Homo sapiens: one gene and its partner. The protein of the gene in region 1 purifies or fractionates together with the protein of each later gene. This does not show direct contact. Each region holds a gene or a part of one and is shown in the gene's direction. Other genes may lie near its edges.

Region 1 (6,173 bases):
TGAGCTGCGGTGCCCCCAGCTCCAGCCTCCAGCATGGAATAAGTGGCTCCTCCTCCTGGCACGGAGCAACTGGGCAGGCAAAGTCAGATAAGCCTAGAACAGGATGCAGAGAGTGGTAGCATTAGAGTCTCACCTTGTCATGCTGGCCACTAGGTGGCAGGGGCCAGTTTTAGCAAAGGCACTCACACCTACCCTCCAAAGCCCAGCCTCCCTTTTTGGCCCAAGTTCACCAGGAACTGGGGCCTGGGGTGGGGACTGGAGACACCACAGTACAGCGTCCGGGCTTCCCACTCGGCACGAATCGCTGGGCCCACCCCTGGCTGCGCTCCTCAGGAAGCAGAAGCAGCAGAAACTCAACCCCAGCCAGCCCTCCCCACCCAAGTGCCGGTACCTCTTCCTGACACCTCCACCCACAGGGCCCTGTCACTCCATGATGTCCGCTACTGTGTGCCCAGGGGTCCCAGACGGTCTCAGCAACACATGGTGAGAGGGCGCGCGCCTGGGAACCACAGCAGGTCTAGGGGCCGGGCCGTGCTCAGGATCCCCGCAGAAATGCTGTGTGCTGGCCAGGAGCAGAAGGAGATGGCCCTCTAGAGACTGGAGTCCCTCTCACCTCCTCTGACCACCGCTGTCACTGACACCTCCGCTGCCCACCACCAGGGGGACGGTGCAGCCCCCGATAGCGCCCCCGACCCTCCCCCACAGCTGGCAGTGTAGCACCAGATGGCAACCCCAACCCGCCCCTGCCTCGGACACTGCAGCACCAATGGCACCCGCAACCCACCCCCTGCCTTGGGCAGCGCAGCCCGGGATAGCGCCCCCAACCCGCTCCCTGCCGTAGGCAGTGGCTGTAGACAGTGTAGCCATGGGTAGCGACCCCAACCAGACCCCTGCCGTGGGCAGTGATGCCCCGATATGGCACCCAAATCGCCCCCTACCCCGGGCAGTGCAACCCTGGATAGTGCCCCTACCTGCTCCCCACCAGGAGAAGCAGCCCAGGATAGCACCCTCAACCCACTTCCTGCCTCCAGGCAGTGCAGCCACAGATAGCACCCAAACTTACTCCCCACCTCGGGCAGTGCGGCCACAGACAGCTCACCTAAACCACCCCCTGCCAAGGGCAGTGTAGCCCCCTATAGTGCACCCAACCTGCCCCTGCTGCAGCCAGTGCAGCCCCAGATAGCACACCCACCCGCTCCCTGCTAGGCAGTACAGACCCCTGATAGCACCCAACCCACCCCTCCACCGCAGGCAGTGTACCCGGCCCTCAATAGCGCCCCCAACCAACGCCCCCACCCCCTCTCCATGGGCAGTCCAGCCCCGGTACCAATCCCAACAACCCCCCGCTACCTGTCTCAGTGTAGCCCCCAGAGAGCGCCCTCAACAACCCCCTCCCCACTGCCAGCAGTGTAGCACCCTATAGTGACCCTAACCCGTCCCCCACCACCAGCATTGCAGCCCCAAATAGTGCCCCCAACCCGCTCCCCACTGTGGGCAGTGCAGCCATGGATAGTGTCCCCAACCAGCTCCCAGATGCAGGCAATGATGCCCTGGATATCACGCCCGCCCCCGTCCCCCACAGGCAGAGTAGCACCGGATAGCAGCACCCACCCTCGCCACCAGCAGTGTTGCACCCACCAGCCCCCCACAACCTGTCCCCAACAAGGGCATCAGGGCATTGCAGCACCTGATAGTTCTACTAACTCACCCCCGCCCCCCGGCCGCGGGCAGTGCATCCCCAGATAGTGCCCCCAAAACTCCCCACTGCCGCAGGAATTACAGCTTCGGATAGCGCCCCAACCCATCTCCAGCCATAGGCTGGATAGCGCCCCCGGATAGCGCCCCCACCCCACTCCCCTCAGCGGGCAGTGACGCCCGAGGTACCACACTCAAGCAGCCCCCCAACACGGGCAGTGACGCCCTGGATAGGGCCCCCAACCCGCCCCCCACGCCACAGGCAGTACGGCCTGGGATAACGAACCTATTCTGCCACCTTTTCACCATTCTGGCTGCGCTGTAGTCACCCTCGCGGCCACCAACCGCAGCAGCGAGGTGAGCCACTGTAGGCTCCAGCCTCCAGCATGCGCGGTAGATGACTCTAGCCTCTGGCATGCGCGGCAAGTGGCTCCTCCTCCTTCTCCTCTAAGCCGGGCACAGAGCAGCTACGCAGGCCGACGCAGATGAGCCTGGAAGGGCAAGCCACCCCTCTTGGCATCCTTTATATACTGAGTTTAATGCAAATGAAGTTTCTCGACTACATAGTCTGATCGGATGAGAGAAACCTCTAGGCCTACTCTGATCGGGCTTTGTTATCTTGTTCTGATTGGTTATCCTAAGACTTGCTGTCATCCAGTCAGAACGTGAAAATAAAGCACAATCAGAGTAGACCTAGAGGTTTTTCTCTCATCCAATCTGAACATGTAGTCCAGAAACCTTACTTGCATAACCTCGGTCTGTGGGGGGAGGGGTTCTTGCCATTCCAGGCACTTCTGCGTCTGCCAGCCCATCTGCTCCATGCCCAGGTTAGAGGAGGAGTCACCTGTCCCACGCTGGAGGCTTGAAAGCCTGCAGCAGCATGGCTCGGCTCGCTGCCGTTGGTGGCGGTGAGGGAGACTAGACCGCAGCCAGAATGTAGAAAGGTGGCGGGGTGGATGAGCTATCCAGGGCTCACTGCCTGCGGCAGGGGGCGGGGAGGGGGACAGGTTGGATGCACGATCTGGAGCTGCACTGCCCGAGGTGGGAGCGGGGGCGGATTGAGGGCGCCATCGTGGGCTACAACCCGGTGGTGGGAGGCGTGTTAGGGGCAGTATTGGGTGCTGCACTGCCTACAGCACGGGAAGGTTGGGTGCTTTACCGGACGTCATTTCCCGCAGCCGCGGGGTGGCTTGCTGGGGGCGCTATCCGTGGCTGCACTGGTCGCGCTGGGGTACGGGTTGGGGGCGCTATCTGGGACATCAGTGCGCATGGCAGGGAACTTGTTGGCTGTGATATCCGAGGCGTCACTGCCCTTGGCTGGGGGCTGGTTGGGGGCTCTATCTATGGGCTACACTGCCTACAGCCAGGAGCGTGTTGGGGCGTTATCGGGGCGGACTGCCAGTGGCGGGGGTGGGGGTGCGGGTTGGGTGCTATCGGGGGGCTTCACTGCCTGGCAGGGAGTGGATTGGGTGCGCTATTTGGGGTTGGACTGCCGGCGGTGGTTGACTCGGTGGGAGGAGAGGGGCAGAGGGAATGGGTTGGATGCACTATCGGGAGCTACACTGCCCGAGGCGAGGGGGAGATGGGGGCGCCATCGTTGGCTACACCGCATGTAGTGGGGGGCGTGTAAGGAGCAGTAGTGCGTGTTGCATTGCTCATGGCGGGGGAGGGTTGGGTGCGTTATCCCGGGCGTCATTTCCCACAGCGGCGGGGGTCAGTGGAGGGGCTTGTTGAGGGCGCTATCCATGGCTGCACTGGTCGCTGAGGGGCAAGGATTGGGGGCGCTACCTGGGACATCAGTGCCATGGTGGGGAACTTGTTGGGTGTGTTATCCGAGGCATCACTCCCCATGGCTGGGGGCTGGTTGGGGGCGCTACCCATGGGCTGCACTGCCCACAGCCAGGAGCGTGTATGGGACATTATCGGGGGCGGACTGCCAGTGGCTGGGTGGGGAGGCGGGTTGGATGCTATGTGGGGTTGCACTGCCCAGCAGGGAGTGAGTTCGGTGCGCTATCTGGGGTTGCACTGCCGGCGGTGGGTGGCAGATTGGGTGCCCTATCGCTACACTGCCGCGGCGAGTACCGGGTTGGCGGCGCTATCCTGGGCTACACCGCCGGTGGCGGGAGGCGTTTTAGGGGCGCTATCTGGTGCTGCACTGCCCGCGCAGGAGTTGGGTTGGGTGACCTACTCCAGGCGTCACTGCCCGAGGCTGGGGGCTGATTTGGGGCGCTATCCCGGGAGTCATTTCCTGTGGCGAGGGGCTGGTTGAGGGTGGTATCCGTGGCTGCACTGCCCACAGCACAGAGCGGGTTTGGGGAGTTATCCCGGGCTGCGCTGCCCGTGGCAGGGGGCAGGCTGCCAGCGCCATTGGGTGCTGCATGTACTAGGCACGGATGAGTTAGGGGCGCCATCTGGGACTGCACTGCCGGTGGCGGGCGGTGGAGGTGTCAGTGACAGCGGTGGTCTGCAAGAGAGGAGCGGTCCTCCTCTTCCCGGCCACCTCCTCCTGTTCTTGCTCAAGTGCGGCGGGCGCACAGCATTTCCTGAGCGCGGCAGGGGCCCCAGCCCCGTGGTGCTTCCTGGACCCGCCTCCTATTGCTCTGTGTTGCAGAGACCGCCTGGGACCCCGGGGCACGCAGTAGTGGACACGAGGAGGCTACAGGGCCCTGTGGGTGGAGGAGGCATCAGGAACGGGAACCGGCACTTGGGTGGGGAGGGCTGGCTGGGGTTGAGTTTCTGCTGCTCCTGCTTCCCGAGGAGTGCAGCCAGGGTGGCTGCAGCTGTTCCTGTGGAGTGGGAAGCCCGGGCACTGTGGTGTCTGCAGTCCCCACTCCAGGCCGCAGTTCCTGGCCAGCTTGCGCTAAAAGGAGAGGCTGGACTTTGAAGTGTGGGTGTGAGTACCTTCGCTGAAACCGGCCCCTGCCACCCAGTGGCCAGCATGACAAGGTGCGCTCTAATGTTACCACTCTGCATCCTGTTCTAGGCTTTTCTGGCTTTGTCTGCCCGGATGCCCAGTGCCCTGAGAAGGAGCTACATGCCACGGGCTGGAGGCTAGAGCCTGTGGCACCATGATTTGCCTCCGATGGAGGTGGCTGAATTAGGCTTCCCAGAGACTGCAGTGTCCCAATCCAGGATCTGTCTATGTGCTGTATTGTGTGGCCACTGGGACTTTGCAGACATGATGGTGATAAGGAGCCTGAGGTGAGAGACAATTCTGGGTTTTCCGCATTGCTCCAGGGTGGAGTCTTTATAAGGGAAAGAGGAAGGCAGGAGGAGGGTCACAGTGAGAGGAGGAGATGTGGGGATGGAGGGAGAGAGAAGGAGAGGGGAGTCCAGGGAGAGGAAGACAGAAAGTGGGGGGAGAGAAGATCAGGAGAGAGATCTGAAGATGCTGAGCTCTGGCTTTGTAGTTAGAAGAAAGGGCCAGGAGCTGGGGGCGTCCTCTAGAAGCTGGAAAAGTTCTGGAAATGGATTTGTCTCAGAGCCCCCGGAAGGAGCCCGGCCCTGCTGGCACCCTGATCTTAGCAGCTCAGGCCTCATTTTGGACTTCTGACTTCCATACCTGGGAGAGAATAAATGTGTGTTATTTTAAGCCACTAAATTAGGGGTCATTTGTGACAGTGGCCATGGGCAAGTCAAACAGGAGCCGTGGGAGAGACTCACCCAGGATGCCCCTCGGCCCCTCCCTGGCCCCACCCACAGTGACACAGGCCTGCTGCTGCTGATGCCCCCAGTTTTCTAACTCCCTACAGAGCAGGGACAATGCAAGAGGGGCTGGGTGGGGCTGGGCTATGTTCTCTGTCTCCACACCTTCCTCTCAGAGAGCAGCTGGAGCCCCAGAACCTGGGAGCCTCACAGAGAAAGTCCTGATGTGGGACCTGGTTTTCCACCCGAGACCCAGGATCCAATAAAGAAGTGTTTCTATAAATGATGCGTCCTCCAAAGAAGGCCAGTGACTTTCTGTGCCAAGTACCTGAGAGAATCGCCATGTCCTAGAGCTGCCAGGCAGCTGTAGGTGCACTTACAGACACAGGTCACCTGTGCATGTGTCAGAGACCAAATCCCATCAATATTGAGGCCTTGGTTAAGACGGGTCCTCGCTTTTAGTTGTGAAAACATGCCTGGCTTCAACATTGAGAAAACCAACTCTCCTTGACCAAATGCTTTGCATATTCTCATAGAAATAAGGGAACACTTGTCAGGCACAGTGGCTCACACCTGTAATCCCAGCACTTTGGGAGGCCGAGGCAGGCAGATCACGAGGTCAGGAGATCAAGACCATCCTGGCTAATATGGTGAAACCCCGTCTCTACTAAAAATACAAAAAAATTAGCCAGGTGTGGTGGTGGGCGCCTGTAGTCCCAGCTACTCAGGAGGCTGAGGCAGGAGAATGGCGTGAACCTGGAAGGTAGAGCTTGCAGTGAGCTGAGATTGCACCACTGCACTCCAGCCTGGGCGACAGTGTGAGACTGTCTCAA
Region 2 (4,204 bases), on another chromosome or scaffold:
CTGAAAGTCAGAGATCCACAGTTTCACAATCTCTTAGCCAAAATTATGAAATCCAAAAAGCCCCCAACACTGAAATATTTTTCTTAGAATTGATGCTAAAAGCATTGGACGGTCAAATTGGCCCTAAGCACGTGAGAAGCTGTTTGTGGTTTTCCCTTGACCTCTGCAGTTTGAGTGTTCAGAGGCCTTGCTGCAGACACAGGGCAGTGGATGCCCGTGAAGCCCTCTCCCCAGCCTGCTGGGGTCTCCCTAGCAAGTGGTCATATGACTTTTCTGAAATCCCCAAACACATCTGGCCCAAGGGTTTTGATGGAAGGGCCGTGGACCCAGGTGACTGTGGAGAGAACGGGTACTGAGGCTGCAGCAGCCCGCTAAGGCCCCAAGAGCATGGGTGAAGATGCAGTGCTGCCCAGGGGCCTCAGCTTTGTGTCTGGACTGTGCCCCAGAAGTTGCCCAGACTCTTTGGCAAGGGGCTTTGTGAGACCCTCGTGGTGTGCATTCGCCTCCTGTCTTACCTGATCCTGCAGGAGGATGTGCAGTTTCCTAGCATTTGCATGGGGTTTGTCTCAAGCATGGGATGGATGGAGAGCGGGAGAGGGAGGTACAGGGGAGAGAGAGATGGGAGACATGGAGGGAGAGAGGCGGGAGACATGGAGGGAGAGAGGCAGGCAGACGCAGACCCTCAGCCTCCCCCTCAGTTCCCCTCAGAAAACTGCTTTTCCTCAGAACTTGGCTCACAATCCCTTTCTCTGTGGAACCCACCCTTGGGTTGTATCCTTCCTCTTCCGTCTTTTTTTTTTTGAGATGGTCTTGGCCATTGCCCAGGCTGGAGTGCAGTGGTGCGATCACAGCTCACTGCAGCCTAGACTCCTGTGCTCAAGCGAGGTTCCCGCTTCAGCCTCCCAAGTAGCTGAGACTACAGGTGTGTGTCACCACGCTGGCTAATTTTTAAATGTTTTGTAGAGACGAGGTCTCACTATGTTGCCCAGGCTGGTCTCGAACTCCTGGGCTCAGCCTCCCACAGTGCTGGGATTACAGGTGTGGGCCACTGTGCCCGATCCTGTCCTCTTTCTGAGCCTCTGGTATACCTTTATTAGGTTGCTGATGTTAACCTGTGTGTCTGTCCCCGAGTGAGGTGGTGCGGTCACATTCTGTGCATCTGGTGCCCAGTGTCAGTCTGTCATGTGGAGGCCAGTGGCTGGGCTGACAGGAGGCCTGGGTCCCTTGGCTCTGTGATCATCCTGTCTGGACTGTGGCAGCCTCCTCATGGGTCACCATGTGCTGAATGCTGGAGGACATTGTGTGCCACCTCTTAGGAGCCGCCCTCACCAGCCTCCTCTCTCTTTTTCGGCCCGTGTCCCCTTCTTTTTTTGTTTGTGTTTGAGACGGAGTCTCACTCTGTCACCCATCTCACCAGTGAGCTGGTACAATCTCAGCTCACTGCAACCTCTGCCTCCCAGGCTCAAACCATTCTCCTGCCTCAGCCTCCAAGTAGCTGGGATTATAGGTGCCTGCCACCTCACCGGGCTAATTTTTGTATTTTTAGTAGAGACAGGACTTTGCCATGTTGGCCAGTCTGGTCTCGAACCTCCTGACCTCAAGTGATCTGCCCACCTCGGCCTCCCAAAGTGCTGGGATTACAGGCGTGAGCCACCACGCCCGGCCCCCTGGCCCCTGGCCCCTTCTGTGTGGGCCCCATCTGAGAGCCATTTCCCAAATCTGAGAGCCATTTCCCTAGTCGGCTGTGAAATCGGATGGTGTTTGTAGTCAATCAGTTGTTTTTTTACTGTTGTGGAGTTTACCAGGGACTCTCCAATCTCTCTCTCGTTTCCTCTCACACCTCCTCAAGGCAGCAGCACGGACTTCCCCTTGCAGGTGGGGCCGAGGCTAGGCTGCACGGCTGACGGGGGGTTTGGGGGCCCTGAGATGAAGCGAGAGCGCTGACCAAAGCATTGGCAAGTTCTCCTGTACTTTACTGTTGGGCTTTTGGTAGCATTCTCTGCAAAATCATTTCTAAATGTGGACTTAATTTGGAGAAATTTGAGACTAAGTGCTTTATTTTTTAACTTGGTCACAAAATTTGGTCTTTTTCTTGTTATAAATTGGTGGCATTAAATGCTTTGTACTTAGTTCTAATGGAGAATCGGTGCAATCTCTCCTTTTGACTCATCTGTGGCCCTACATGATGGTCACCCATGTCATTATCCCCAGGGTGGACAATGTCCCAGAAGGAAGCCTGCCAGTGCACGGTGAACAGGCGCTGCCCAAGGACCAGCAAATCACTGCCTTGGGGAGAGAGGAACCTGTGGCAATAGAGAGCCCCGGACAGGATCTTCTGGGAGAAAGCAGGTCTGAACCAGTGGATGTGAAGCCATTTGCTTCCTGCGAAGATTCTGAAGCTCCAGTCCCAGCTGAGGATGGGGGCAGTGATGCTGGCATGTGTGGCCTGTGTCAGAAGGCCCAGCTAGAGCGGATGGGAGTCAGTGGTCCCAGCGGTTCAGACCTTTGGGCTGGGGCTGCCGTGGCCAAGCCCCAGGCCAAGGGTCAGCTGGCGGGGGGCAGCCTCCTGATGCACTGCCCTTGCTATGGGAGTGAATGGGGCTTGTGGTGGCGAAGCCAGGACTTGGCCCCCAGCCCCTCTGGGATGGCAGGCCTCTCGTTTGGGACACCTACTCTAGATGAGCCGTGGCTGGGAGTGGAAAACGACCGAGAAGAGCTGCAGACCTGCTTGATTAAGGAGCAGCTGTCCCAGTTGAGCCTTGCAGGAGCCCTGGATGTCCCCCACGCCGAACTCGTTCCGACAGAGTGCCAGGCTGTCACCGCTCCTGTGTCGTCCTGCGATCTGGGAGGCAGAGACCTGTGCGGTGGCTGCACGGGCAGCTCCTCAGCCTGCTATGCCTTGGCCACGGACCTCCCTGGGGGCCTGGAAGCAGTGGAGGCCCAGGAGGTTGATGTGAATTCGTTTTCCTGGAACCTCAAGGAACTCTTTTTCAGTGACCAGACAGACCAAACGTCATCAAATTGTTCCTGTGCTACGTCTGAACTCAGAGAGACACCCTCTTCCTTGGCAGTGGGCTCCGATCCAGATGTAGGCAGTCTCCAGGAACAGGGGTCGTGTGTCCTGGATGACAGGGAGCTGTTACTACTGACCGGCACCTGTGTTGACCTTGGCCAAGGCCGACGGTTCCGGGAGAGCTGTGTGGGACATGATCCAACAGAACCGCTTGAGGTTTGTTTGGTGTCCTCTGAGCATTATGCAGCAAGCGACAGAGAAAGCCCAGGACACGTTCCTTCCACGTTGGATGCTGGCCCTGAGGACACGTGCCCATCAGCAGAGGAGCCAAGGCTGAACGTCCAGGTCACCTCCACGCCCGTGATCGTGATGCGCGGGGCTGCTGGCCTGCAGCGGGAGATCCAGGAGGGTGCCTACTCCGGGAGCTGCTACCATCGAGATGGCTTACGGCTGAGTATGTCCCGGGCCCCATAGGAAGAAGTGTGGTGCTCCCAGAGCACAGTGCAGTGGGGGTGCAGGGCCTTCCTTGTTCTGGGGTCTGATGGGGTTTCACCCTGGAATAGTGTTAGCAGAAATCATGTTTTCAAGGAGAATGCATATCATCCACCCCTAGAAAATTAAGATTACGAATGTGTGTGCCTGGGGAGGGTGGCGCCCAAGGTCCCAGGCCACCTGCCCCATGCCCGTCAGTTCCAGCTGTGCCCCCTGACTCAGGCCATACACTTAGAGAGCCGCTCCTCCCAGCAGCCTGGGGAGATCCCGTCGGGAGCAGGAGAAGCGTGGGGGTGTCACGCTAGAGTCTGTCTCTCCACCTCCCACCAGCCCCCACCTCAGTGGTCACACAGACAGGCCGAGAGGGATGTGAGCGTGGTGAGATGCTCACGTGTTCTTCTTCCGTGCTTTTGGTGTTTAGGCTGCCCTGATCTCTGAAAAACCTGCCCTTCTGTGAGGGTCATGTGATCGGGCCCCTCTGCTTGCCCCTTTGAGATTGATTCTGTTTTACTTTCTTTTTTATTTTCATTTCTTTTTTTTTTTTTTTTCTTTTTTTTTGAGACAGAGTCTCTCTCTGTTGCCCAGGCTGGAGTGCAGTAGCGCGATCTCAGCTTACTGCAAGCTCCGCCTCCCGGGTTCATGCCATTCTCCTGCCTCAGCCTCCCTAGTAGCTGGGACTACAGGCACCCACCAGCACGC

Evidence for each region.
Region 2: the proteins of RFPL2 (region 1) and PASK purify together in Homo sapiens (affinity purification with mass spectrometry, with the first as the bait; one large-scale study listed by BioGRID). This does not show direct contact.

The regions. Positions count from the first base shown.
Region 1 is NC_000022.11:32,201,056-32,207,228, reverse strand, and holds the start of RFPL2 (ret finger protein-like 2), read left to right. Parts: upstream 1-2,155; 5' UTR 2,156-2,522; exon of another isoform or gene 2,523-2,926; intron 2,927-3,751; exon of another isoform or gene 3,752-4,588; intron 4,589-4,678; 5' UTR 4,679-4,777; coding exon 4,778-4,896; intron 4,897-6,173.
Region 2 is NC_000002.12:241,125,459-241,129,662, reverse strand, and holds part of PASK (PAS domain-containing serine/threonine-protein kinase), read left to right. Parts: intron 1-2,211; coding exon 2,212-3,467; intron 3,468-4,204. UniProt on the Homo sapiens protein: Serine/threonine-protein kinase involved in energy homeostasis and protein translation. Phosphorylates EEF1A1, GYS1, PDX1 and RPS6.